Homo sapiens: one gene and its partners. The protein of the gene in region 5 purifies or fractionates together with the protein of the main gene of each other region. This does not show direct contact. Each region holds a gene or a part of one and is shown on either strand. Other genes may lie near its edges. The genes, in order: EFEMP1, CAD, ANXA6, CPNE3, KCTD7, CLN5 and KCTD3.

The links.
Region 1: the proteins of KCTD7 (region 5) and EFEMP1 purify together in Homo sapiens (affinity purification with mass spectrometry, with the first as the bait; one large-scale study listed by BioGRID). This does not show direct contact.
Region 2: the proteins of KCTD7 (region 5) and CAD purify together in Homo sapiens (affinity purification with mass spectrometry, with the first as the bait; one large-scale study listed by BioGRID). This does not show direct contact.
Region 3: the proteins of KCTD7 (region 5) and ANXA6 purify together in Homo sapiens (affinity purification with mass spectrometry, with the first as the bait; one large-scale study listed by BioGRID). This does not show direct contact.
Region 4: the proteins of KCTD7 (region 5) and CPNE3 purify together in Homo sapiens (affinity purification with mass spectrometry, with the first as the bait; one large-scale study listed by BioGRID). This does not show direct contact.
Region 6: the proteins of KCTD7 (region 5) and CLN5 purify together in Homo sapiens (affinity purification with western blotting; one study listed by BioGRID). This does not show direct contact.
Region 7: the proteins of KCTD7 (region 5) and KCTD3 purify together in Homo sapiens (affinity purification with mass spectrometry; one large-scale study listed by BioGRID and IntAct). This does not show direct contact.

What each region holds. Positions count from the first base shown.
Region 1 is NC_000002.12:55,913,140-55,917,597, reverse strand, and holds part of EFEMP1 (EGF-containing fibulin-like extracellular matrix protein 1 precursor), read left to right. Parts: intron 1-4,458. UniProt on the Homo sapiens protein: Binds EGFR, the EGF receptor, inducing EGFR autophosphorylation and the activation of downstream signaling pathways. May play a role in cell adhesion and migration. May function as a negative regulator of chondrocyte differentiation.
Region 2 is NC_000002.12:27,233,964-27,238,421, reverse strand, and holds part of CAD (multifunctional protein CAD), read right to left. Parts: intron 4,415-4,458; coding exon 4,196-4,414; intron 3,905-4,195; coding exon 3,737-3,904; intron 3,178-3,736; coding exon 2,995-3,177; intron 2,887-2,994; coding exon 2,782-2,886; intron 2,139-2,781; coding exon 1,899-2,138; intron 1,674-1,898; coding exon 1,592-1,673; intron 1,044-1,591; coding exon 877-1,043; intron 705-876; coding exon 540-704; intron 367-539; coding exon 235-366; intron 1-234. UniProt on the Homo sapiens protein: Multifunctional protein that encodes the first 3 enzymatic activities of the de novo pyrimidine pathway: carbamoylphosphate synthetase (CPSase; EC 6.3.5.5), aspartate transcarbamylase (ATCase; EC 2.1.3.2) and dihydroorotase (DHOase; EC 3.5.2.3).
Region 3 is NC_000005.10:151,129,635-151,134,092, forward strand, and holds part of ANXA6 (annexin A6), read right to left. Parts: intron 3,554-4,458; coding exon 3,460-3,553; intron 2,938-3,459; coding exon 2,842-2,937; intron 1,656-2,841; coding exon 1,597-1,655; intron 1-1,596. UniProt on the Homo sapiens protein: May associate with CD21. May regulate the release of Ca(2+) from intracellular stores.
Region 4 is NC_000008.11:86,559,007-86,562,528, forward strand, and holds the end of CPNE3 (copine-3), read left to right. Parts: 3' UTR 1-2,492; downstream 2,493-3,522. UniProt on the Homo sapiens protein: Calcium-dependent phospholipid-binding protein that plays a role in ERBB2-mediated tumor cell migration in response to growth factor heregulin stimulation.
Region 5 is NC_000007.14:66,638,881-66,642,171, reverse strand, and holds part of KCTD7 (BTB/POZ domain-containing protein KCTD7), read right to left. Parts: coding exon 2,940-3,291; 3' UTR 1,779-2,939; coding exon of another isoform or gene 1,778-1,778; 3' UTR 1-1,777. UniProt on the Homo sapiens protein: May be involved in the control of excitability of cortical neurons.
Region 6 is NC_000013.11:77,002,081-77,005,617, reverse strand, and holds the end of CLN5 (bis(monoacylglycero)phosphate synthase CLN5), read right to left. Parts: 3' UTR 501-3,537; downstream 1-500. UniProt on the Homo sapiens protein: Exhibits palmitoyl protein thioesterase (S-depalmitoylation) activity in vitro and most likely plays a role in protein S-depalmitoylation.
Region 7 is NC_000001.11:215,597,790-215,602,247, reverse strand, and holds part of KCTD3 (BTB/POZ domain-containing protein KCTD3), read right to left. Parts: intron 382-4,458; coding exon 294-381; intron 164-293; coding exon 47-163; intron 1-46. UniProt on the Homo sapiens protein: Accessory subunit of potassium/sodium hyperpolarization-activated cyclic nucleotide-gated channel 3 (HCN3) up-regulating its cell-surface expression and current density without affecting its voltage dependence and kinetics.

The DNA of each region.
Region 1 (4,458 bases), on a different chromosome or scaffold from region 5:
GATAATTTATTAAGGACTTCTCGCGTGCCAGACATCATGCTAAGTGCTTTGTCTGCATTATATTTAATCATCACAATATTCCTAAAGGGTAGTTGCTGTAGTTGTCATCATTGCTTTACAAATGGGAAACTGTGGCTTAGAAAGTTCATCAGTGGTTCCCAACCCTAGCTGCCCATATTTAGAGTCACTTGGGAACCTTTAAAACTTCTCGATGGCGAAGCTACACCCCAGCCCAGTTAAATCACAGTCTCTGAGGTGGGTTCCAGGCATCGGCTTTTTTTTCAGTTCCTCATGTGCGGCCAAGTTTGAGAACCAGAGGTCACACAGGTGCTAAGTGCAGAGCTGACCTTCCAACCCAGGAAGGCGGGTGCCAAAGTCACAGCTGGCAAAAGTCACCATCAGGTTATTCACTGGGAATTTGAAATTATGCTGTCAAGCTACTCTACAGATGTACCCCTTTGGTTTCTCAAGTTTCTTTTCATCGAACTTGCCACAGACTTATTTTCCTCATTCAGGAGTAAAGAAATGGGGCTCCTGCTTCTCATTACCTTGGAGGGATTCTCCCCCACTCACGTTTATATCTCTTTTAAGCTCTCATTTGACGACGTTTCACTTATATCACTTGCACCATGGCATCATCTGCCTAGGGTTTTCTGTTTATTTTCACAGAGCATACACATCACTGTGTATTCTAGAAACAGCTGTAGGCTCGTATTAGCAAAGTGATAAGAATCTGGGGCTTTGAAGACATGTAGGATATTAGCTAACTGAACTGTGCTATGAGATTGTTTCCCTTTCTTCTTGGCAAACCATTTCAGAGCAGCCTGGTGTGGAGACTGTGTTACTGAAATGGGGCCATAGGAGCCTCCAGACTCCTTTCTCCCTGCCAGAGGCTGATTAGGTAGATCCCATAGTGCAGAACTCCATGTCACCACCACATACGTGTATGGCACACGTGGGCCAATGGAAAGGGTCCAGGAGTTCTTACTTTCTAACTGGTCATGTGTAAGGAAGAGAGCACCTTCCTCCCTTAACACCAAGGGTTTCAATAGAGACCACTGAGCTGCTACATTAAATGAAAGATGCATTTTCTTGTGCCCTGGGATGCTGCCCCTTATTCACCCGTGTTTAGTTTTATCTTCTGTGTAAAAGATACTCGAGTTTAAATGGCTTAAAAATGAAGCAAGGGGCTGGGCACGGTGGCTCACGCCTGTAATCCCAGCACTTTGGGAAGATGAGGCGGGTGGATCACCTGAGGTCGGGAGTTCAAGACCAGCCTGGCCAACATGGCGAAACCCCATCTCTACTAAAAATACAAAAATTCTCTATGAATGGTGGCACATGCCTGTAGTCTCAAATACTAGAGAGGCTGAAGCAGGAGAATTGCTTGAACCTGGGAGGTGAAGGTTGCAGTGAGCCGAGATCATGCTACTGCACTCCAGCCTGGGCAACAGAGTGAGACTCTGTCTCAAAAAAAAAAAAAAAAAAAATGAAGGAAACTTGTCATGCTCTGACTCTTATTTATTTCATATTTTGTTTGTAAGCTTTAAGTACCCCACATCAAGACCTAACCCATGTTGTGATGGTGTCACTTTTCAGAGGGTGCATCGTATTAGCATCTGTTTCGTGTTACTGTCATGAGTCAGAATTCCAGTATTGATGATGAATGCTTCAGCATCTGCTTGATATTCTGATATTGAATTTAAGGATTATGTCAAGGAGATAAAATGATGAGGTTATTCTTATACATGTATTTGGGTTAATACTGATAAAAAAAATCTTGAGTTTATTTAAGATAGACCAACTTTTAATTGTGTTATTTAGTTATATAACTAGACTGGAAAGTTTGGTAGTATTTTTCCCAAAATCAAAAAATTTTGCTGAAAAATTCTTAAGTATCAACTTTTATATACTGAATTATTTTGAATACTTTAGATGTGTACTTTAATGGTACTTGGGAGAAAAAAAAACCAGATAAATGAATGAGTCATTTCCCAAAGTAGTTTGTAGACCGTCATTGACATTTATGGTTGAATTCAAGAACAATGCCCAGAACTAAATGAAGAGGTCCTAGAATAAAATATATTCAAGACTTACAACATGTATTGGTTACGGTAGAAACTGTACTGTGATTAATGAAAATAAAATCCTATTTAACTTTTCTAGAAAATATTTAGACTACCTAACAAAGTAAGTTACGTTTCACATAGTAAAACATTTATAGTTCTTTCTTCTTTGGGAATTTTTTTTAGTTATAAGCAGACTATTAAGTGCCTTGCTTATGGAATATGCTAAATACATACCTGTTGACTGTGTGCACACAGGTTATTTCCAACCCAAATTGATCTGTGTAATTCAGCCAGTTTCTAAAATTTGGGATTGGTGTCTATACCATTGAAAGCAGGGTTAAAAGTTTTTTGGAAGGCTTAGGGCTTAAGTTGGATTTCTTCCCACCTCACAATTTTGCAAAGTGCCCATAAATGTGGATTTACTTAATTGTTGATAAAAGGGGGTTATTTCATATGATAACAACAGGATAATCTGTCTAGGGAATTTGACTAACATAAGTCGAGTCACACTTGTGCCCATTTCTTATTGAGCTAATCAAACATGCAGTCCAGCTTCTTCTAATTGCCTGCAGATGTATGACATTCTCATTCCAGGCCAGCAGCACAAAATAATATTTTATAACCAATGTGGAAGTATGGGGACCTCTGTTTAGAACAATAATGTGCTCTAAGGACCTATATTATTGACATCATCATGGAGTTTGAAGAGTCTTCTGTTTTAATAAAGATCTCCACTCCCTTTTAAATGTTGCATATTTATGCCCAGTAATCCAGACACATTTCCTATGGTCTACTGGATAGAATAAATGAATCTTACAGATGAGTCTTATTTGCATAAAAATTATTTCTTTTTTCTATGTATATTTTTTAGCAGGTATAGTTTATCATTATATAACCTAAAACTCAGGACATTTTAAATGTAAGAACTGAAATCTGTACTGTGTTTCAGTCTTCAAATCAATTGTGCCTTTGAATGCACTATACCAGTCACAGATGGCTTCTAAATAATTTAAATAATACCACTAGATATTTTAAATGTACACTATTTTATAAATATATCCTTTAAATAGCTGTCCATTTAACTGTTTAATGAAAACATGATATGTTTATTCCCCTTCATGTATTTTTGGGGGTGTTTTCAGTTTTGTACAAAAACAAGGAGTTTGAAATACAACATAACATTCAAAGATCAGGTCACAGTGAGCAGGTTTTTTTCAGGTAATTTTTTGCTAAATGAGGATCATGCTGTGGGAGCCAGTAACGCTGGGAGTTTCCCATGACTGACATTATTCTTGGCATCTATAAAATGAAGATCATTTCAGTGTTACATACCTGGGGCCATGTATAGATAGAGTTTTCGAAATTAATTGTTTCCATTAGATATCATCTGCCTCAAAGACAACAGATACTCATCTACACCAAAAAGAAGTTGAATGAATGGGGAATATATTATAATCTGTTGATGGCTCACTTTAGTTTTCTACACCTTTATTGCATAGTCTCTTTCTCCTTTTTTTTTGAGACAGAGTCTCACGCTGTCACCCAGGCTGGAGTGCAGAGGTGCTATCTTGGCTCACTGCAACTTCCACCTTCTGGGTTTAAGCAATTCTTGTGCCTCAGCCTCCCGAGTAGCTGTGACTACAGGCGTGCACCACCACACCCTGCTAATTTTTGTATTTTTAGTAGAGATGGGGTTTCACCATGTTGGCCAGGCTGGTCTCGAGCTCCTGACCTCAGATGATGTGCCCACCTCAGCCTCCCAAAGTGCTGGTGTTACAGGCCTGAGCCACTGTACCTGGCAATAGTCTCTATATAATCTTTCTAAAGGAGATGGAGTTAGAAATCACTAGATGAAGTTGAGAAAGGATTTTTTAAAATCATATATAACTTTCTAAGACTTCCATTCCTGTATTAAAAAAAAAAAGTCATTTGGGAACTGACAAGAAAGAGAAAGCATTGATTGCCCTAATTGAAGAAACTTGTTTGTTTAATTGAACTTTAAAAAAATTAAAACACATGGCATTTTGCATACCTGGTAATTAAGCCACTAATAAACCCTGTCAGGACTTACAGGCATGACTACTAACTTGGTAAAGAAACTGTGCCATCGAGAAATGAACTCAGTACGAATGTCCAATAAAGTTGATTGTAAAACCAAATCGAGTACAGTACCTGGCTTATGTTGTATAAAGTATCATTGAGAAATATGAAAAAAACATACCCTAGGGTTTCCACCATCTCTGTCTACCAGGACTGTCCAGTTTCAAAACCAAAAGCTCCATGTTCCTGGAAATGCCTTTGTCCCAGGCAAATAGGATGGTTGAGCCCCTAGCATACCCACACAGCCAAATCGCCTGCACCTCACAGACAAGAGTGAAGAAGTCCTAAC
Region 2 (4,458 bases), on a different chromosome or scaffold from region 5:
AATGGGAAGATCCAGAAGAGGCACCACCCATATGCCTTGCCCTACACAAAGTCCCAATGGCCAACATCCCTGCTCAAAAAATGATGATGTAGACCTGCAAGGGTGCTGGCTCGAGACCCTCCTCCTGCTGTCTCCAGACTCTCCTCCTGCTGTCTCCTGCCCCTAAGGACTACCCTGACCTTTGGTGTTACTGGGAAAGCAACAGGGACAGCAGGATCTCAGGTGTACTCTTACCTCCTCCTTCCGTGCCACGTGACATATGTGCACTGAGCGCTGAGTGAGCTGAGCCACCATGAGGACAGCAGCCACGGTTTGCTGCTCTGCGTGAGCCACAATGGGGAGGTGGGAGGGCCATGTCTCGAAATGCTGGGAGCAGAAAGAACTGATGAAGGAGTGTGCAGAATCTCTGACTGTGCTCATCAGAGCCCAGAGTCCCCAGGAGCTCCCCTGAATCCTCACTGCTACCAGCCCACTTAGGCAGGGGCCCACAAGCCAGGAGACACTGGGTGGTGGCCTCCTGCCACATGCACACTCCCTACCTCCATCCACTGGACCACGCTGTCCAGCCGCAGCTCAGAGAAGGTCTCATTGAGGTAAAGCTTCAGCCCGGCTGCAGACCCGGCCACGGTGCCCAAGGTTCCTGCATTTTCAGACGAGGCCCCAAGGAATAGCGCAAAGTCGCACCGGGCGCCAGCCTCTGCCAGCTGGAGAGGATACACAGAGGTAAGGCTCACTGGCACCCATGCCCACACAGGCTAGCCTGGCACCAGTGGCCTGGGCCCATAGGGCGGGGCAGAAGGAAAAGGGCTCAGGGAAGCAAGGGTGGCTGGTAGGGGCATATGGGTCTCCAATACCAGGAAGAGTGCAGTGGCTCACCTTCTGGGCCAGGGCCAGAGCAGGGGCGTCAATGATGGGGGGCCGGGTATTAGGCATGGCACACACCATGGTGATACCCCCAGCCAGGGCAGCGGCTGTGCCTGAAGCAAAGTCCTCCTTATGTGTCCCACCTGGTTCCCGCAGGTGCACATGGACATCAATCAATCCTGGGAGAAAATGGAAGCAGCAAGATTACAGGAAGATTCAGAAATAGGAAGGGTGAGCTGGACATGGTGGCTCACGCCTGTAATCCTAGCACTTTGGGAGGCCGAGGTGGGCAGATCACCTGAGATCAGGAGTTCGAGACCAACCTGACCAACATGGTGAAACCCCGTCTCTACTAAAAACACAAAAATTAGCCTGGTGTGGTAGCACACACCTGTAATCCCAGCTACTTGGGAGGCTGAGGCAGGAAAATCGCTTGAACCTGGGAGGCGGAGGTTGCAGTGAGCCGATATCACACACCACTGCACTCCAACCTGGGCGATGGAGTAAGACTCTGTCTCAAAAAAAAAAAAAAAAAAAAAATTCCTCAGACAAGGCCACTGTGGACACTGTGGATTAAGGAATGAAAGAGTGAGAAACATTCTGGGGTCTTCACAGTCTGTGCAGTCCAGGACAAAGAGTGGGCCCCCCAGCCATCCTTCACCACACTGCAGGTCTCTATGCCAGGGGCTGCCAGTGTTCAGAAGCCAAGTTCTCCCCAAAGACTTACCCGGCAGTCGCACAAGCTTTTGGGAGGTCATACAGTCAACATGCACCTTCAAAGGAGGGGCTGGCCCGATCTGGCCTAGGGCCTGCAAGTGGAAAGCAGTCAGCTTTAAGGGAAGGGTGATCCTGGGAGTTGTAGGGAGAGATGTGGTTTTCCCATAAACCAGGCTCTGCACACTCTATACCCACCATCTCTCCCTCTGTAGCCACAAAGCTTTATTACTAGCATGGCTGTTCCATACTCACTCCTCCCTCTTTCTTCTTCCCATCAACACTGGCAGTCTCCCTCCCAGCACATGGGTCTCAGTTACCTCCACAAAGAGTTTGGTGCACTTGATATCGATGATTAGGGGCACGGAGAAGTCAGCGGCCAAGCGTCGGGTGCGGTAGCCCTTGGTGACAAAGGAAGAGAGACGCCGGCCCCCAGCTCCACGCATTGACAGGTTAATCACCAGCTCAAAGTTTTTCTCAGCTAGCTGCTCCAGGATGCTCCGCTGTGGTGGGCACTCACCATCCACAGCCTCCTCAAAGTGCCAGTCCACAGCTGTTACCTGCCAACCCGGAGTCAAGGTCAGGGCCAAGCTGTCTGGCAGCGGTCAGGAAGGCTAGCCTTAAGGGAGAGGAGCTGGCCCAGGAGCCCATGATGAGGAGACTGAGGACCCATAGGGTGGGCACTGAGGGCTGCCTCTATTTGATACTGGCAAAGTGTATTTCTTGGCAGGAAAGATATCTACACTAAGTAAGATGGGTTACCAAGGACTAGGTGCAGTATGAGCTCACACACATGTACACAGAGAAAATCCTGGAAGGAAAAATATCAGAACAGTGGTACAGAGATTTTAAGAGACTTTTCTCTTTGCTTCCTGTGTATTCTGCTTTCTGCATGGAATATAGCTTACTAGTATAATGGTAATAATAAAAGCAGGGGAATAGGAGATAATTCTTTGTTTTTTTTTTTTTTGAGACAGCATCTCACTGTTTCCCAAGCTGGAGTGCAGTGGTGCACTCACTGCACACTCGCAGCTCACTGCAGCCTCTACCTCCTGGGCTCAAGAGATTCTCCTGCCTTAGCCTCCTGAGTATCTGGGACTACAGGTATATGCCACCGTGCCCAGCCCAGATAATTCTTTGGTGCAGTATTTTCACCCCCTTGGGGAAGGGCAGCAGTGGGGTAGGTTGCCAGAGTTCCTGCACCTTGACGCCATGCTCAGTGTAGAAGTCAGCTGTGCCGAGACTGGCATAGAGGCTGTAGCCCAGGCTCTCCAGTAGCCGCACAGTTGGGAGCAGCTCGCTTTTGTTCTGAAACCAAACAGAAGGATGAAATTGTTTTCTTCCTGTCTTCCATTTCAAGGTCAGCCCTGGCCCAGGGAGCCACGGCCCTCGGGAAGCCCTCCTGGATTCTGATACCTTATAGCTGCCAATGGTCAGCAGGATATTCTTCTTGGGGATCTTAAAGCCAGTGCTTAGCATGGCCTTGAGGTATGCCTCACAGCGGCTCTCCCCAAAGCCGGCCACCTCCCCAGTACTGGTCATTTCCACACCCAACACCACGTCAGCACCCGCCAAGCGGGAGAAGGAGAACTGAGGCACCTAAAGGGGCGGGAGGGAAGAGAGAGGGCCAAGGTGTGAGAGGACCTCCTCCCTCACCAGCAGAGACGGACACAGTACCCTGTGCTTGATCCCATCTGAATGGCAGGGTCAGCCTGCCCTCTCTGTGTGCCCTCCTGCTTTCCAAACGTACTTGGGGTCATCCCTCAGCTTCTGCTTAGGATGTGCCCTTGCAAATAAAAAACCTTAACCATCCTTCAAAACTCAATTCAAATAGCACCCCTTCGCTCAAGCCTTCCCAGATCACCCCTTTTGGAAGCAGCACCTCCTGTCTCTTGAACTCCTGCAGCATTCTGTTTACAGGTCGAATATGTAGTTTTACCACGGACTGTTCTATACCAAAGCTTTTTTGGGGATCCAACTTCTCTTCCCTCCCATTACCATAAAGTAAGCTCTTAAGGGACAATGACCACCTCATTACCCCCACGATCCGGCAATGCCTTGCAGTCAGTGCCTGGTTTACATACTGACAACTCTGTGTGGTGAGTGAACTCTCTCCCGCTATTTTTCTGCTAACCCCAAGGGTTTCGATATTCCTTACCTTTACTCCCACGACTCCAGAACCAGTCATTAGCCCCACAGGTTCCACTTCTTCCCCCATGATGACCCGCGTGGCCAAGGCTACTAGGTCCACACCCAGTGTCTTGGAAACGAAGGGGAAGGAGCGAGAGACACGTACGTTGCATTCAATAACTTTCAGCTGGTCATCCTGGGGCAGAGAAGACTGGTCAGGCCTTCTGCAGGTTGGCCTTGCTGACACTATCTATAGGCCTAGACTCTTCCTCTCCGTCCTCAGCTCTGGGGGATCAGACTGAGCAGGGTTCAGGGTCACTGACTGTCATAAGCCCCAACACCATGAGCTCTAGCTACAGCCCTTTCCCTCCAGCTTCCCTGCCTACTTGGATGAAGGCAGGAGACAGTGCAGGGCTTCATGGCACTGTGGCCAGCACAGAACATGCAAGAGCTGTGGCCCTTTAGTTCTTTCCTTTAGCCTTATTACCTTGGCAATGAGCTGCAGATTGAAGGGTCCTGTGACCTGTAGCTCCTGGCCCACAGCATGCACAATGGCTTTGATCCGCTCCAGGGTTTTGGCAGTGATATCTTGTGGGGGGGTCACCAGCGTCGCATCACCTGAATGCACACCTGCATTCTCCACATGCTCAGAGATGGCGATGGCTGCCACCACACCATCAGAGGCCACGGCATCCACGTCAATCTCCTAGCGGGGGGACACAGACAGTGGGACATAGGGCCACTTTCTTC
Region 3 (4,458 bases), on a different chromosome or scaffold from region 5:
TTAGAGCAAAAGAAGCAGACATTGCCATTCCCATTGAAGCTCTCTCTATGCTCCTCTTACTGTTTTGTTTGTTTGTTTGTTTGTTTGTTTGTTTCTGAGACAGTGTCTCACTCTTGTCCAGGCTGGAGTGCAGTGGTACGATCTCAGCTCACTACAACCTCTGCCTTCCAGACTCAAGCAATTCTCCTGCCTCAGCTTCCTGAGCAGCTGGGAGTACAGGTACCCACCACTACGCCTGGCTAATTTTTGTATTTTTAGTAGAGATGGGGTTTTGCCATGTTGGCCAGGCTGGTCTTGAACTGGCCTCAAGGGCTGCCTTGGCCTCCCAAAATGCTACGATTACACACATGAGCCACCATGCCCGGCCCTCTCACTGTTATAAACCTCTTCTCTCTTCATGTATAATTTCCACACTTGATTTTCCTTATAATTTTACCATAGCTTTGTAACTCTAAGCAATACACTTAGATTTACACATTTTGGAACTCTGCAAATATACCACTGTGCATTTAGGTTTTTGCTGTACTATTCCTGATGGTCACTGGGTTGTTTCTAGCTTTTTCCTAATATAAGCAATACTGTTATAAGTTTTTTTTTTCTTTTTCTTTTTTTTTTGAAGAGGCAGGGTCTCACTCTGTTGTCCAGGCTAGAGTACAGTGGCGTGATCACATAGCACTGCGTTCACTGAAGCCTCAAACCCAGGGGCCCTGTGCTCAAGAAATCCTCCTGCCTCAGCCTCCCGAGTAGTTAGGACTACAGGTATGTGCCACAGTCCCTGGCTAGTTCTATTTGTTATTTTTGTAGAGACAAGGGTCTTACTATGTTGCCCAGGCTGGTCTTGAACTTTGGGCCTCAAGTGATCCTCCCACTTTGGCCTCCCAGAGTGCTGGGATCATAGGTGTGAGCCACTGCATGCACTCAGCCTTGTGATGGGCATTCTTAATGAATTCATGCATACAGGCAAACATCTCTCTAGGGCTGAGCTGCCCAACCTCATTATGGCACACTGGTGGGCAGAGAATGGCCGACAGTCTACTTTGTCCTTTCGGAATGGCCAACCAGGGCCAGAAAGGCCCAAGCTCCTGTGTCTCGGGCCTCAGGCCTCTGGCAGCAAATAACTGCATTCATTTCCTCCAGTGCATCACAAAAATACCAGTTTCTTTGTGCGTCATATGTGTAAAAGCCTGGGAAGCTTTCTCAGAAACACACCCAGAGTGGAACTGTCACAGGGTGAGCATCATGAGTCTTAGCAGGCAAGGCCAAAGTGGTCTTGCCTACATACGCTGTATAAAAACATTCTGGTTAATACTTCTTCAAAGTCCGAGCCGCCAACCCATTTGGCTGGAGGGATCAGGTGCAGGCTGCCACCCTAAGTTCATCTGTTGACTCATGACGTCAGGCAGGTATGCAGGTGGCAGGACATGTGACCAGCAGCATTCCTGGCTCTACAGCTCACCTGCGACAGAGCACCTTCACCAGGGTCAGTCCTGTGGCCATCCCTGAAGGGCTCTCTTTGGCCACTGGATCCCAAGGACTTGTCAAAGACTCCCAATAGTCCTCTCCCCAAACCCCATTCACATCAGCCCCACCACGCACCTTCATAGCCTTGAAGAGCCTTTCAGCAAAATATTCCGGGGTGCTCCGGATACACTTCACTGTGAAGAGGGAGGAAGAGGTAGAGTTATTCTGGCTGCCTCAGAAGGGGGATGGGATGGCCTGACTCCCTCTTTGTTTCTATTCCTTGAGGGCCACCTAGCTCAATACAGGAAGAACCACCGTTCCTGATAGCTCACAGCCCCAGATCACCCCAGACCAACCCACTTTTACCGCACACCCAGGGAATAAACAGGAAATAATCTTGTTGAAATAATCCTTTTGAAGTCCATCACAAAGACCGCCTTTATCTTTCTAGTCCTTTTGGTTTTAACAGGGAATTGAGCTGGGGTGGGGGTAGGGTCTGGGGCGAAGGAGGAAAAGGTGTTTTTTAGACCTGCTACACCAGAAAGGTACTGGCAGCTGAATCATTGTGAATCCCACTGAATCACCGTGAGTCCCACTGGCTGACTACTTCAAACAGGGAGGGCAGGGGATGGCTCTGGGAGGGACGATAAAGGAGCTGCAGGTTTCCCCCAAGAAATACAAACACACAACATATCCCTGACTCAGACATGCTAACTGCTGGAATGCCAGAATTGGAAGGGCTTCTGGGGAGGCAATTAAGGCAGTCCATCCTTCCTGCCCCCACACCCTGCACCCCACTTAACAGATGAGGAAACTGAGGTCCAGCAAGCAGAAGTGACTTGCTCCAAGCCCATGTGGGAGAAGCCCTGGTTTGAATCTTGGCTCCACCACTGACTAGCCAGTTCCTCACATCCTCACGTTCTCAGTACCCCCAACTCATTACAAAACTACCCCTCAGGAAATGATCAGCCTGGTGAGACTCAGTTTCCTCATCTGTGAAATAGAGATCATGGCAGTGGCCACTGCTGGGTCTTTTTTAAAGATTACACACTCAGCACAGTGCCTGGCATGCACTAGATGCTCAACAAAAGTCAACTATTATGATCATCATTATCCTCAACCCAAGTTCAGAGCTCTTTGTCCCCCTGCCAGTGGTGGAGAAGGGAGCTGGAGGAAGTCAGTACCTGAGGCTCAAACCCCCTTCCCGTCCCCAGCCTCAGCCATGCTGCCCTGGAGAAACCTTTAGAATTCACGGCCCACATGGTTTTCTCCTTCCCAATTCTATACCATGTAATTCCCCTTTCCATTCTCAGCCCCTTGTTCCTAGGCCAGTGTTCCAGAATCCCCTAAAGCCCCCAGGAATGCAACGTCAGGACATACCTACGGCCAGCATTAGCTTCTCAAAGTCCCCAGACAGCTCCCCTCGGATGCTGGCTTCAATCGGCTTCCCTGTGGTCTTCAGATACTCATCGAACACTGCGTCAGACAGAGAGACAGGGAGGTTTGAGAGTGCCTCTGTACCCCCGAGAAGAAATGAGGACTTCAAGAGCAGGGGGGCACAGTGGCCAGGACGACTGTCCACCATGAAGCTAGGGCTGGTGCTATGATGGAGGCGACTGGGAGGTCACGCACATCACCAGCGCTGTGCAGATGAGCTTCATAGCTGGTGAGAGACTGTGTCTCATCCCCTAACATGGAGACAGGACTGGCACTGAGATGGAAGGCCAAGCATCCTGTTAATGACTTTGCTGAGGGACTATACAAACTGCTGTCTGATATTAGGTTGGTGCAAAAGTAATTGCGGTTTTTGCCATTCCTTTAAAAACGGCAAAAACCGCAGTTACTTTTGCACCAACCTAATAAACTCAGGACTAAAGTTTGGGTTGGGAATGAAGTAGGTATCATGTTCCATTAGTGGTAAAGAAAAGAAAAGAGATAAAGAAAGGCATTATTGGCATCAACCCAAGGGAGCAGCTTCAGGTCTTCTCTGGAGCTTACCCAACCGAAGATGCTGCTTGCTGCGATTTCCCAAGATGTAAATGAACTGGGCTTCATCTGTTCCCCATTTCAGTTCCCCTGCCTCGTATAGGTCCTGAAGGGGAAGAGGTGGCACTTGACTGAAAGAGGAAACCTCAGGAGACAGGACACACTGACCAAGCCACTCAGAACTGCTGCCTGATCCCTGAACACACGAGTAATTGGTAGCCTGAAGACCTTTGCAAATAAAACAGTCATGCATCATTTAATGATGGGGATACATTCTGAGAACTGCCATTGTTAGGCGACTTTGCCATTGTGTGATCATAGAGCACTCGCACACACCTAGATGGCATAGCCTACTACACACCCAGACTCCGTGGTATAGCCTATTGCTCCTAGGCGGCACACCTACCTGTTCAGCGTGTTATCTTACCGAATACTGTAGGCAACTGCAACACAATGGCAAGAATTTGTGTATCCAAACATAAATAATCATAGAAAAGGCACAGTGAAAATATGGGGTTATAATCTTATAGGACTAGCATCACATATCTGGTCCATAATCTTATGGGACTAGCATCATATATGTGGTCCATCATTAACCAAAACACCATTATGTGGTACATGACTATACCTATATGCCTTTCTTCCTTTCTTTCTGGAGAAACTCCTACTCAACCTTCAAGGCCCAGATTAAGTATTCCATTTTTTTCTCAAAGTACTTCCCGATGCCCCCAGGCACAGTTCTATTTCCCTCCTTTCCTCCCTCTCCTAGGCTCCCATAGCTTTCTACTTCTTTATCACTTTGATCTACTGTATATGATAATGATTTCTTCACCTGTCTATCTCCACACTATTGCATGAGCTCCTCAACAACAGGGACTATGTCATAGCATTCTCTGTATCAGCCCCTGTAGTGCTGCTGGCATGTACTGGGTACTCAAAACACCTGCAATGTACAGTATATTGATAGAGAAGGTGTTTGTGTGATTAATGTATGCCTGTCTCTCCCGGTAC
Region 4 (3,522 bases), on a different chromosome or scaffold from region 5:
AATGAGCAGGAAAAGGCACATACTCAGTTTTTTAAATGTACAATCAACAAGTAAAAATAACCTCATGTAAGTAAGCCATTTTTATTTGCCTTTCTAGATATTTTATTTTATTGTGGAAAACTGTAAACATGGTCAGATTTGGCTTTTTTTTTCATTAACTGAGCAAGACTTTCAGGATATTGTAGATGCACAGATGGTAGGTTGTCCTGAATTCTACATTATTAGATTACTTTAATTGAGATTTGTTAAAACGGTTAGGACTGTTTTGTCCAGGAAAGATAAGAGGACCAAACATATAAGGTGAAATTCAGAATTCCGTTTCCTTCTAACTAATGAAAAACTGCTTACTAAAAAAAAATTTTATACTTTCCTTGCTAAGGTCCCATATATTGATTTGTACAGATCCACTTAGTCATTTTCTCCTTTTTTTAAGAACCATTTTCATCTGATTTTTAAACTCACGATACCAGTTATCTGTTAATCAAAATTGCATTTTACAATTTAATAATGTGATATTTCCTATGTCTACAGCATACCTTATTAGGTATAAAACCTACTGCAACTTAGAAAAAGGAAAGAAAAAAGAAAACTTTTCCAACTGCTGCATTAAGATAGGGTGGATTTTATGTGCTTTTTTTTTTTAAGAGTTGAATTTCTTTTCCTGACTTTTACCTTTTACAGCGTATTACTTAGTGAACATTACATTTTCAGAATAGATCCTAATATTTTATTGAGGGCCTATGTGCTAAAAACTATGCATATCTATATATTGGCCAATTATCTTTAATAATTTACCTTTTGAAATTGCATGTTTATCATATATCCTTAAGTGGACACATACAGTGCCATGTTGATGTGCCTCTCAGTTTTATTGAAAAGCTGCCCCACAGCCCATGTCTCTTGTTCTCTGCAATGCCTCAAGGGAGTGAGCTCTCAACCACAGATAGCTGTGGCTTCTCAGAAGCAGCTCATTGCCAAGGCCAGGCTGAGAGGGGACCTGCTTGCTGTGGTGGTTGCCTAGCCCAGATGAGCATTTACCTACCACCTTCCCACTTGGCTAGCTGTCCTTTGGATATGTGCTGTTAACTGGGGAAGGCATCTAACTAGTAGCCTGCTACTCCATAGTATGGCTCAATAGATGACACATCATTTTGACATTATCAATAGGAGAAAAGAAAACTAACCCTTCTTCTGATTGTTTGGAGCCATAGTTGTCTCAGATGTTCTAATTCTCTTTGTATGCTTGGAAACAGCATAGATATGTTGCTGTGGTTTTCAGAATTTTCTCTTTTAATCACAAGAAGCCTTTTAAAAAATGACTTACACATATTCTCAATGTACAGTAAAACAGACAGAAGTGAGCTTATCTGTTTGATGCTGTGGCAGGGTCCCAGTCACTGGGCATATCCTCCTTCTCCTTAACCAGCTCCACAGCAGCCCCTGAGTCACCTGCACAAGGTGCTTGGGAACTGCTGGTTATGAGCATTCCTGGTTTTCTTCAGCCAAATAACAGGTAATCACTGTCAATTGGATTTGGTCTTCATTATTTTATATTCTGATTTTATCAGAATTATTCTATTTTAAAATTGTTTTAAAATTTAAAACATTTAATTCATGATCATGTTCATCAGTAGATGCTATTATTCATAAGAACTGTGATTCCAGCAAACTAGGGTAATTGGTGCCTTTTTACAGTTTTGAATAAAAGCATTTACAATTTCTAAATTATCAGTTTTCACAGTTTCAGCACTCAACCTCATCATACGCTGATTTAATATTGTTTTACATTAAAATAGTCCTTTTCCCTGTTGTGCCACCATTCATTTAAGTGCTGTTTGTTCTTAAAATGCATTTAAAGAAAAATTACCCATATTGACTTTCACACCTCATATAATCAGATCTATTACAAATATATATCGGAGTGACGGTGCCCAGGATAGATGTAATATTTCTTACAGATGCTGGCACAGAGGAAATAATATACCAGCTAATCTAGTCACCTAACCTTGTGGTTAGAATTGCAATTTTAAGACCAGAAAAATTTGAAGTCTGATCAGAGATTTACAACTGTTCATTATAGTGGTGCCTTAGGCAATCTTTCCAAAGTAAATTCAGGGCCCCATTGCTACTTATGCCATATTTGGACATACTTTTTTTTTCTTCAATTTTGTAAACTTCCTGGAAAGCTGTCTTCACTAAGTATCCCCTAGTCTCTATATATGTGGTTAGTAGTCATGGAAATGACACATAAAGTACGCCAGAAGTTTGATGGAACGTGTTAGAAACTGTTTTGTGCTTTTATGGATGTCATACTTGACAATACATGTGTAAGTTACTAATATATGAATTGATGCTAAATATATCTTACATTTGAATTCCTTTTGGATAAAGTTATTTCTTGATGTGACAGAGTAGTGTGTTTTCATTTTTATTCTTTACATGTGACCAAAACAATAGAAAAGTTAAAAATAAAATATAGTGTTTTAGGTGGCCTTTGACTTCATATTTTACTGAATTAAACAATTTGGGGGATATTATTTTATGGGATTTATTTGTTTAAAAGATATTGAGTGGGTCCAAGATACTCTTCTGGGTACAGTAAAGGAAAGATTCTTAGCTTATAGCTAGAATGGCCTGAGATTATCAATCATGTTAAGAAGGATAGTGTAACCACCTAATTTTAAAAAAAATGTTTTAATTGCTTTTGTCATGGGCATTGGGCAGGACTTTGCCAGTGGTAACCAAGACAGCCACGATTGCTGCCTTTGTAGAAATAATGGTCTAGTGGGGGAGAGAAAACATTGAGCAAGTAATTATAGAGATGTGAGATCTGTGCGTGAAACAACATACAGTAGAGAGAGACCTAACCCATCTGAGAGGCAAGGAGCACTTCCCTGAGGATGTGCCATGTAAGCTAAGACCTGAAAGTTAGCTAGGTGAAGAAGGTTAAAAGCACTTATGAAGCTGTCAGGCCAACAGCAAGTATAGAGTTGAATGTTCTAGGAGTGGACAGAAGTTTGAGTTTGCTGAAATATAAAGTATAAGAGGGAAAGTGGTAAAAGAAATGAGGTGGAGTGGTTGGTGGTGTTTACATCCTGAGGGCCTTTTGGGGCAGGTAAGGGAGTTCAGACTGAGGCTTAGGGTAATGGGATGCCACTAAATTGATTTAAGCAAATGAATGATGTGATTATATTTGTGCATTTGAAAAACCAGAGGACCATACTTTTTAGGGCAGACAGATGAGTTCAGAAGCCCACAGAGTTCCACATGGAACCCTGTGACCAAATGTGGGTCTAGTCGCAATGGCTTTGCCTTGGTGAAGGCCAGATGGCAGAGCTGATAGTGGTCACCTTCTGGCAGACACTCAGCTGTTTGGTCACATACTTTCTAAGTGTCTGATTCTAGGTCTGTTTCCAAATTCTGAGCTTTTCCTGCCTCACTATCAAATTGTCTGGTAGACCCGTATCTTGTTGGTTCCTTAATGGTGCAGAGGCTGGTTCAGACCTGGTGATAATATGTCTT
Region 5 (3,291 bases):
TGCTTCAGTCTTTTTTTGTTGCTATAACATTAGCTTTTTTATTTTTAAGGAATTTTGTTATGGCGAGCATTGCACCATTGGTCCCATCTCCTGAAACTTTCACTTTGCTTTGACTCACTGATAACTACTGGCCCGTCTCAAGGCAAGATGAATCCAGTCCCTTGTCAAGTGAGAGGGATTTACTGACATTATGCACAACAATTCTATAAAGATGCACTTCCTTATGATCAGGGAGAAGCTTTCATCCTTTGGAGCCTTCCTTCCAGACCCAACCCTTCTTCTGTTCTGGGCCTGGCCATTTAGAGTTGAAAAGGGATCAAATGGGGAAAAGTCACTTCCACAGGGATAACCCCTTTATCTGGAGGCCGTTACCACAATCCACCACATCTAATTGCACTTTTCAGCCTGGCCTTGGTTTCTCATTAGAGAATGGCGAAACTAGGCCACTGAATTCCTTCACTCCATTTAGAAAGAGCTCTCAGCTTGCTGCCCAGTGTCACCTCTCTGCCTGTTCTACTGGCCCAGAGCCTTGTGTCCTACAGTGGCACAGAATACATTACTGTGAGGATCACAAAGGGAGTCAGAGAAACAGGGATTTCTCCAGCGAGAGAGAGGAACGGTGTTCTTACCCAGCATCCCTGTAATCCTAAGCAAGCCTTCAGGACCTGTTTTTGAGCAAACTTGCATTTGAGCAAACAAGTCTCTCAATGGCTTGCATGTATGGACTCTAAATAACCAAGCCCTGCCATGCTCCATGGGAGAAGGGGGAAGCAGAAGGGGTCAAGGCCACATTACTGAAAGCAATGGGCTTAATGAACTGCTCTCTGTTCACACAGACTTTTTCAATAGTCTGCCTCTCTGTCAAAAAATGAACACATATTAGGCAGTAGGTAACACCAATCAGAAGAACCAAAATGAAAGCCTTTTCTCTTAGAACAATACAAGAGCCATGTTTTGGGGCTAACCTCCAAGCAGGGACATCAGCTCCAGAAAAGAGACTATCCCTTTGTGTACGAGAACAATAGAGAGAGCGCATATCTCAGAACGTGAATGACTATCCTTTCCTCTTAGATCTCAGTATCCACCTCTTTTCCACCTCTAAAAGAGTACAACAGGAGTGCAAAACCACGCCCTGGAATCTTTGTTTACACATAGGGAACAGGAGATCACTGCCGTCCAGCCCCACGGAGGAATTCAGCCAAAGTCCCAGGGCTTGGTCTTCTCTTCCTCATATGAACACAGACTTCAGCTCCCCTTATACCCATCTTGTCTATCTGGTCCTGTAAGTCTGATACCAGTGAGGCTGTCCTCCCCAATTTATTTATTTATTTATTTATTTTTACGATGGTGTTGCCCAGGCTGGAGCACAGTGGCTAGCCACAGGCACGATCATAGTATACTACAGTCTTAATCTCCTGGGCTCAAGTGATCCTCCTGCCTCAGCCTCCAGAGTAGCTGGTACTACAGGTGTGTGCTCGAGTGGCCTGGACTACAGGCGTGTGCCCAAGTAGCTGGGACTACAGACATGTTCCTGGCTCGCATCAATTCTTTACACATTAAAAAAAAAAATCTCCCTTTACCCAGGAAGAGACAGGTACAATCATGATTAGAGAGAGACACCCTTAATGCAGCATGGAAATGTTACATTGTGATCAATGGTGCTACACAGTTCTTCCTTTAGGAGATGCATGTCCAGACCCTGACTAGTTGGCCTAGGCTGTAGACAGAGCAAGAAGGAAATGCAGTAGTAACAGATCCTTGGGGATCTTTTTCAATTTCTGAAATAGAGGAGTAAGTAAACCAAAATATACAGGAGTGAGGAGTAAAACAAAATATAAAGAAGTGAGTAAAACAAAAATAGAGGAGTGAGGAGTAAAACAAAAGGGAAGTTTTGTCTTCCTACGGCTCCTAGGATAGCTGTGTGTCTCACCCAGCCCTTCCTTTACCTTCTCAGAAGAGAGGCTCTCCTAGAAGGAGAATGTTACCAGGACAGAGGAACAGGGTTTAAAGAGAGGGGGTCCCCTTCCAAAGAGGTTCACCACAAACTGGATTCTAACACATGAGATAGCAGCCAAGGAGGTGTTCTGAGCCTCTAAAAAGGATGTTACATGTCAAAGATAACAGAAGATCTAGGCATCTTGCCTGCTTGACTTGGGGAATCTTCAAAAGAAGCCTCTGAAATTTGCATTCCAGCCCTGTGAGAAGATAACCCTGCAAGCAAGGAAGGTGGTGGAAGATAAGAGAAGCCGCGGCCCTAAGACAGGGCTGTAAACATTGTGGTTTTCTAAGGCCAACTGGGTGCATAGCTTTGGCAGCTATGGTTAAATCTCCAAAAGGTGGTGAAGAACATGTTCCGGAAGGAAAAGAAAAGTCTTTCCACATTTTGGGAATGTGGGCAACTATTCTTGGAGGAGAAGGGGTGCAGTGGGAGAGAAGATGCTCTTTCTTCTTCAGCCAGGGGCTATGGGGTGGCTGGTCAGGTAAATCCCCCATCATGTTCCGTGTTCACACCAATATACTGAGCACAAGGGAGGGACGCTTGAACAGGGTTGAGGAAGTGATTAGGCCTACATCGATTTGGTAACGTGGCTCTAAAATGGGCAGAAACTCTCTTGCAAGGTCAAGAAGGTGACAAAACTTCTCGGGACTTCCTGGTCAAGCCCTAGCTATCAGCCTCAAGGAAAGACTACCATGCCTTGAGGAAAGGCCAGGTGAGCGCTGGCTGGAGTGCCTGCAGGCCGCAAGCCCTGAGCCCAACCCTGAGGTGCAGTCAGGGAGATTGGAGCTACACCTCTGTCCCCTGGGAGCTGTGCCTCAGGATGCTGTTCTCACCTCGGCAGATTCTGGGGCAGTCAGCAGCCCCTTCAGGGATCTTACTCCCAGAGCCACCAAGCAAGGTGGACATCCTCCCTGATGGGACTCTCGCCTACCGGGGCTACTCACCACCATGTGATCTTGAACTCATAGATGGGGCGCTTGCAGTAGTAGTGGTTCACGAGGTGCTTGTCACACACCCCGATGCACTGGTGGTCCACGGTGAGACCCTGGGCCGAGAGGTCCGTGACCAGGCAGTGCAGCAGGTCATAAACATCAGCCACAGCCTCCCAGGGCCCAAAAGACACATCCACTTCACAGTGGTGCTCAAAAAGCTGCCCGTCACTCTCACTCCGCTCAAATCGCAGGGAGTTGAGGAGCGGACACTCATAGGGGGTGATGGGCATCTCCTCCTTGAAGACACAGACCTTGAGCTTGGCAAAGCGGGCCTTCCGCTGGACCGCACGCAGCCGGGCG
Region 6 (3,537 bases), on a different chromosome or scaffold from region 5:
CCTACAGCAACATATGAGAAGAAAAAAGGCTTATCTAGATTCGAAAATTAACAGCAATTATAGTAATATATCCCCTCCTTCTAAATAGTAAAAAGCTCTGATTGTACAAGAATTACCTGTGCTAGTCAAGTTGTTGTTTTTCCTTGAACAACTTTGGAAAAATGGATTTGACAGTACATAATCAGTTCTACTAACCAAAGCTTGTATTTGGAAATTTACTTTTTGTACAAATTGAATTATATAATGCTTAAAATACTTTGTCACTTTATAAGCAAAATGCATAGTACTTAATTTGTTTATACTGTAAAGTATATGTTAAATGCTTTTATCACTTTGAGAATAAAAAGTTACTAATGCTGTTGTATTTTACTTTTTAAAAACTACACAAACATTTGACTTTAAACTTAAAAATGTTTCAAATCCATATTTGATGGATATAATATTTAATATTAAACAATGTTTATGATAGACTCGCCTTTTTGAAGATACAAGGTTAGGCTCATGGAATCTATTCTTGAAATAAGCTCTGATGCCTAAAGAAATAGGAAATTTAAAACCTACCATGAAATATAAATTTTTAAATTTTTATACAGAAAATAATAGGTTCTTTCTGCATTCAGAATGAGAACTTATAAAACAGATTATTTAGACATAGAATCAGTCTTTAAGGGTCCTTGAACCCAACCAGTCTTTTTAGAGATAAATGTCTTTATATAAATTAGAATAGTTTTTCAACTATTGAAATTATTTTCATTGTTTTACTGGCTTTCAACTTATCTTGGTAATTTGGGCTGTTGTAACCATATCAGAAAAAATAGGTATGATTGAAGATTAAGTCAATTTAGTGCATTTTAAGAACTTTAGGCTGAAAGGAAGACGTTCATGTGAAGAAGGTTCAAGCCTCCACTAGGTCCTTTAAAATTTTTTTTTTTTACACTAGGTCCTTTAACACACTATAATTTCTACCCCACACATAGATAGTAATGAGCTTTGCACAGACTCCAACCCCAGTTTGTGGGGCTGGTTTTAATTTTACCAGGCAGGAAAATTCCAGCTGCTTGCTGACACCCAACTTTAAAAAGGGCACAAAGCCTTTTACTCCGAAAGTGAAGTAAGAGCTTATCCTTAGAATAATCAGTCCAATAAAAGGATAAATAATCCTAACTTGTTTTAAGTAGGAGACAAAATTTTGAAAGGAAGGTTTGAAGAGCAGGAAACCACTTGGATAATAAAGGGTAAATATGACGAAGATGCTGGAAACACTTTGGCCAGCCTGTTTGCCTTTGTGAACAGGGAAAAAGCATGTGTGTAGTTTTGGAACATCACTCTTTGTATAGCCTGCCAACTATTTAAAAAATAAAACATCTTACAGGAACTATAATTCCAGGTAATTCATTAAGTGCCACCACAGCAGACCATAAAACTGGATAAGACTTCCTAAGACTTGATTTTTTTCTCCAATTTTTAAGGAGCCACCAATATTGAGGGTTCCAAATAAAGTTAGTAGGTTTCTTCACTGTGTTTTCCTCTACATGCAACAATATATTAGATGACACTTTGTGGGTATACTTACTTAACTAATTTTGTGCCAGATTAATGAGGAGATATATTCACTCTAAAGCCCTAGTCAGACTAAAAATGTATAAATTTTATACATCTACAACATTTTTTTGAGACGGAGTCTCACTCTGTTGCCAGGCTGGAGTGCAGTGGTGCGATCTTGGCTCGTGGGAACCTCCACCTCCTGGATTCAAGTGATTCTCCTGCCTCAGCCTCCCAAGTAGCTGGGACTACAGGCATGCTCCACCACAACCAGCTAATTTTTGTATTTTCAGTAGAGACGGGGTTTCACCATGTTGGCCAGGCTGGTCTCGAACTCCTGACCTCAAGTGATCCGTCCACCTTGGCCTCCCAAAGTATGTGTTAGGATTACAGGCATAAGCCACCGCACCCAGCCTACATCTATAACAATAGCAAAATAGAAACTGCATTTAAGTTGTACTTAAGTTATAATTAAAGTAAATCACATTAAGTCATATTGCTCAAAGGGCAGCAAAACTTAATTGGCAGATTTCTGCGTGGCTATGTTTTGGTTTCTCAACTACTATTTTGAAAGCATGTTCTTGAATCATCTTCACCTGAAAGCTCTACATCTTGTAAGTAGAGCTGACAGGTTTAATTCTTAAGAAATACTTTTGTAAATGTTAATGCTGTCTGTGCTGTAGTTACCTGACTTTATGATGCTTTCTGTCTTCATTTAATTAAGATTCTTAGGAACAATGAAAAATCTTGAATGCTTTTTTTTTGAGACGGAGTCTCGCTCTGTCGCCCAGGCTGGAGTGCAGTGGCGCCATCTCAGCTCACTGCAACCTCTGCCTCCTGGGTTCAAGTGATTCTCCTGCCTTAGCCTCACGTGTAGCTGGGATTACAGGCATGGACCACCACCCCTAGCTTTTTTTTTTTTTTTTTAATTTTAGGAGAAACGGGGTTTCACCACATTGGCCAGGCTGGTCTTGAACTCCCGACCTTCAGTGATCCTTCCACCACCTCAGTTTCGCAAAGTGATAGGATTACAGGCGTAAGCCACTGTGCCTACTCAAAAATCTTGAATGCTTTTTTCACATAACTATTAGAATCTTGTTTAAAAGTTCCAGGTACAGATATCCTCATTTGTTTTCCCTGCATAACCAAGTTCTTTGATTTGCAGTTGACCAAAACTTGGTACAAGAATCTTTGTCTCTTCAAGGCAGTTCTGGAAATCCAAAATCCTGTAGTTTTTCCAGAGCAATTTCCTGAGTTTGGTAGAAGTTCGTGTTGCCTGAGTTTAGCCACTAGATGGTGATAATGCACAGATCCAAGTTTTCTTGTAACATTGTGAAAACAATTAGCAGGTTAAAGAGGCAGTATTAATTTGGAATATTTAGGCATTATTATAAGGAGTCGACAGGCTAAAGGAGGCGTGAAAGAAAGTTCTCCCTCTGTATTTGAGGAAGATATCTGGTGACTGGGTTATTTTCAGACTGTTGTGGGACTACAGTTGAAAAAAAAAAACCCAGCAAAAATGAATTCCTAGACAAAATAAGACCAAAGACACATAAAATACAAGCTCCAATTTTTTTAATTAGACCCAACAGAAACAAAAACACTCCAATAAATTGTTTATAAAAGCTTCCTGTCAGTATCTGTACTTATTTCCTCACAGACCAGTAACATCTGGTTGGCAGGCACTGGTCTGAGGACCACACTTCGGTGCTAAAAGCCTGTACTATAGTGCATCCAATTCAGTCAGCAGAACCGGGGTTCAAGACCTGACTTCATTACTACTAGCTGGATAGCCAGAGAAAGATCACTTAGCCTTTCTAAGGTCCACTTTACTCATTTGGATCAGGTTAATTATATCTATGATTAAGCTTTCTGTGAGAGCTCAATAATAATGTACTAACCTCTCAGGAAGTACTTGAAAGTTGAAACTGAATCACATAATTGGTACATTTACATATTAAACGTGAATTGTTTTATCTGATATCTACTCCATCT
Region 7 (4,458 bases), on a different chromosome or scaffold from region 5:
AAAAAGATAAAAAGTCAAGAATGTATATAATTGGCCATGTACTAACTTGTTTTGGGTGTGAGGTAAACACTCAGAGCAGTAATAGCATCATTTGAAGGATCATGATACAGTTCAGTTACAAGAAGATCATTATCTTTCATTCGCAAGGGGAACTTCTGCATATCTAAAACATAAAAATTTTAAACAGCATTAAAATAAATAGCATATCTATTTAAAACTGAAAGGTAATGTTTTCTTGTTCTCATTTAAAAAATTACATTAAGCAGGAGCATTTTAAGTGACTGAACACTTACCTATGTAATATATTGATCCATTGTTACATCCAAGCAGAAGGAATGATCCAGCAGTGTCATAACTAGTTATAGGAACAACATCTTGAACCTGATGTAGTGAGAGTATTATCAGATGTTAGATAGTAATTATAATTTCTATTTTCTGGTCAATTTCCTCAAAACTTTGATTCTTCTGGTAAAGAGGCAACCAATATCCAATTTTAGTAGGGCTTAGGAAATAAACTTTCTTTAGGTGCACGCGTGCACACACATATACACAAACATGCTACAGAGGAGAACCATCAATATACTTCCTTCAAAATATTTTTTTTAAATTGTATTTCCCACAGCAGTACTTTCCTTTCTCAATTTCGATTGGTTGTCTCCTCTTTTTTTGCATGTGATCACTAGATTGCAGCCCACTAGAACTGGAAGGCCGAGTCTGACCAGGTCCCTCTCTTTTCCCTTTCTCATACAAGAGATTAAATGACCTGTCCAAAGTTACACAGTAAGCAAGTGACAGAATCAGAACTAGTAAACAAAGCAACTGATTTCCAGAAAGTACTTGCTCCCTTGATAATTTATTATTTCTCTGAAAAGGTGGTATTCTCTATTTTTCATTCTCCTTGCTAAAGGTTACTTCTTTTCTAGGAAATGGCAAGGGAAACAAAGTCTCATTTGTATTTATTTTTTTAAAGTATAGGAATAAAAAAATTAGTTTTTCCAGGAAAATCAATCTAGTTTACAAATTAATACCTTCCCATATTTGTGCTAAAAGAAACCTGCCGAGGCAGGCAGATCACCAGAGGTCAGGAATTCGAAATCAGCCTAGCTAACACGGTGAAACCCTGTCTCTACTAAATATACAAAATTAGCTGGGCGTAGTGGCGCATGCCAGTAATCCCGGCTGCTCGGGAGGCTGAGGCAGGAGAATTGCTCGAACCTGGGAGGCAGAGGTTGCGGTGAGCGGGGATTGTGCCACTGCACTCCAGCCTGGGCAACAGAGTGAGACTTGGTATCCAAAAAAAAAAAAAAATGTGTTTGCTAGGATAGTTGCAATACTATTTTACTAGAGTGATATTCTACTATTCATCAAAATGAATCTTCCCTGTTTACAGCCAGGCCAGACAAGCCTGTTAAGCTTCTTCACAGATGACATTTGAATTACTAAGACACCAAGTTTTGCATACAAGTCTAAAAGATTTCCAATAATTTAAAAGTTAAAAATGTTAAGGGACTTTTACTTTTCATATACTATACCTGGCTTTCATTTGAAAAGTTAAAATCTAAACATTATCTGCTTAACATTTAAGTACTTTTTATGTACCACATATTATCCAAGAAAACAAACAATGAACTAGAGATAAGGGATGTGAGGTATCCCCTTGCTCTCTAGGAGCTGGTAACTTGTGAGAAAGAAAAATAACAGACAATTATAGTGTGACAGGCACTAAAATAGACTACAATACAATCACAGGAGAGAGGGGAAGAACTGCCATCTCAGTGCTGGTGGGTGAAGAGCAAAGATCAAGGAAGGTTCACAGAGGAAGTGAAGCTTGAAGACTGAAGTCAACTATGAGTTAGGTAGGGCAAGGGGAAAGGGAATATCTGAAGAGCAAGTAAAAAAAGCACAGAATCTAGGTTCATTCTAATTAAAAACAGAAATAACTAAAACTTGGAAATAATCATTCCTCTAAGCTCTTCCTGTATATAATCCTAATTTCTGTACCCTCTCAATGTCATGCAGTTATGAGTTACACAAGAAATATCTCAAAGAACTCAATCATCATGCCCTATCCTGAGGTCAGGCTTTTAATTAAAGCCAATGCCAAAACATTTTATACCAGGAAAACATTGAGTACTTTTCAGTGATATCAGTAAAGATGTCTAAAGGATGGAGGGGAGACTGCTTTACACACCACTAACCAATTTTCTTACTCAAGTTAGCTAAATCATTTTAGTTCTAGCACTAAAGGAAAGGGCTTCAACTCCTGCCCCAGATTCTTCATGGCAGGAAAATGGGGACAGATAAGGCCATGAGATTCTTCTCCCTTTGGATACATTCTTTTTTTTTTTTTTTTTTCAATGAAAGAGCAGCAGGAGCCTAGCGCTTCCCAAGGCACAAAGGCAAACATTTTTACCATTTATTCTCTGGGAGGATGGGCTCTAGGATTAAAGCCTTGCTACTTCTCCTTCTGTAACCTTTAATCATGATCTGCCTTTCTTTCCATGTCTACCCCTCCATACGGGAAAACAGAGAAAGCAGAGGATAAGCAGAGTTACAGTGAGTTACAACTGCTGAGTTCTTCTCTCCCAGCACAAGCAAGGAAGCAGCCACTGTGTGGCCTCCTCTTCTTCGTCCTAACAACTTCATGGCAAGAATCCAAGAAACCATACTGATTAGTATGCATGGTTCAGTCATGTGGTCACAAATATAAAATGGAAGTGGATTTTTCTCTTATAAGGTAGCACACAGTGATTACCACTAATTTCTACATGTAAATTTAAATTTACAGTTTTAAAATACCAGTCTATCTTCCCATATAAGGCCCCTAGAATCTTTTAACTACAATCTCTATACCTGTAAACTTATCATTATTTTTTACAGGATGTTTTAACCTTCGTCCATTACTTTTTAAATAATCACTTATCTAAATTTACCATCGTATTTACCAACATCTTTCCTAATCACTGCTTAATGCATTCCATTTCTTCCCCTTCAAATATAACGTTCTTCTCAAAAGGCATTTTTCTTTAGTAGTCCTTTCAAAAATTCTCTCTGAAAAAAAACCCTTCTCATTCAGGTTTGAATGATAGTTTTGCTGTGTATGAAAACCTAGGCTGAAAGTTACTTTCTCTACCATTTGGAGAATGCCCGTTGTCGTCTTCTGGTGTCTACTACTGGTGATGAGAAATCTGATCAAAGTCTAATGACAGGCAAACTGTCACTATTCTATGAATACTTTTTATCATAATTTATCTTTTATTATAGCACATTTAAACATTCAGGCTGCCAAGACTTGGTACATTTCTTTAATCAATAAATTCATGCCCATTTTCATTTCTCCAAAATGTTAGCAGTTGTTATCTTTTTCAATATGGCTCCTCTAGTCTGTTCCTATCTGAAATGCTTTCTCACTTTTTCCTTCTTTTTCATATTTTCTATCTCACTCTTGGCTCAACTGGAAATGATTTTCTCAGACGTGTCTGTCAATTTACTAATTTTCTTTTAGCTGCGCTTCTATTTAACCATTAAATAAAATTAAAAATTTTTTTTCAATGACCTTTTAATTTTCAGTATTTTATTTCCCTCCATTTTCTGATTTGTCCTATTCCTTCAATACAGCAGCTTTCTAATTGTTCCATTATTTCCAATTTGGGGATTGCAAATTTTTTCTTGTTTAATGACTTTTCGTTATTTGTTTCCATGTGAAGTTTATAAGTTTTGGGAGGTTATTTTAGCAGAAATTACTCTTTCTACAGGATTCTTGTGTGCTCTCTTCTGAGAAAGTGTTCTAACTGGTGTCATATCTGTATCTAGAAATGTCAATAGTCCTAGATCAGTTTCTCAAATTGGAGTTCTCATAGAACAAAGGCAAGTCTTTGTGCTTCAATTCACTCCTAATTTGAATATGTTGGTTTCAATTTCTAATGGTTTCCTCTTGCATCTCCTTTTCCCATTCCAAGACACCAAACACACATCAAACTTTCTTGTTCCAAGATTACTGGGCAAACTTTTCCCAGTCTTCTCAGGGACTGAGAAACTTAAAACTTCAGATTTTTGTAGGAGGCTCAATTTCTACTGTCCCATGAAATCATGCCTCCTACTTTTGCTAAAATCCCAGATCCCAGAGCCTTTACTTTGGTATGTGGTATGAAAGTGTGTATAAACAAACTAGTCAATTAACTTAATACTTAGTATAAACAATATACATTGTTTCAATATTTGTATCTAGTATTTCTATATATAAATTTAGAAAGTCTAAATCTAAGTAAGTATCTCATATTTCTTACTATAAATTCTGTAAGTAAGCAAACAGACCACAGTTAAGACAGCAGTCAAGACAATACTGAAAAGTCAATCCCCTCTCTCCCCAACAAAATGTGGGCCTAGGATTCCTAGGATGCCTGCCTTATTCCTATTCCTAATATGCAGAGGTCTGTAAACCTATCACACACACAGAAA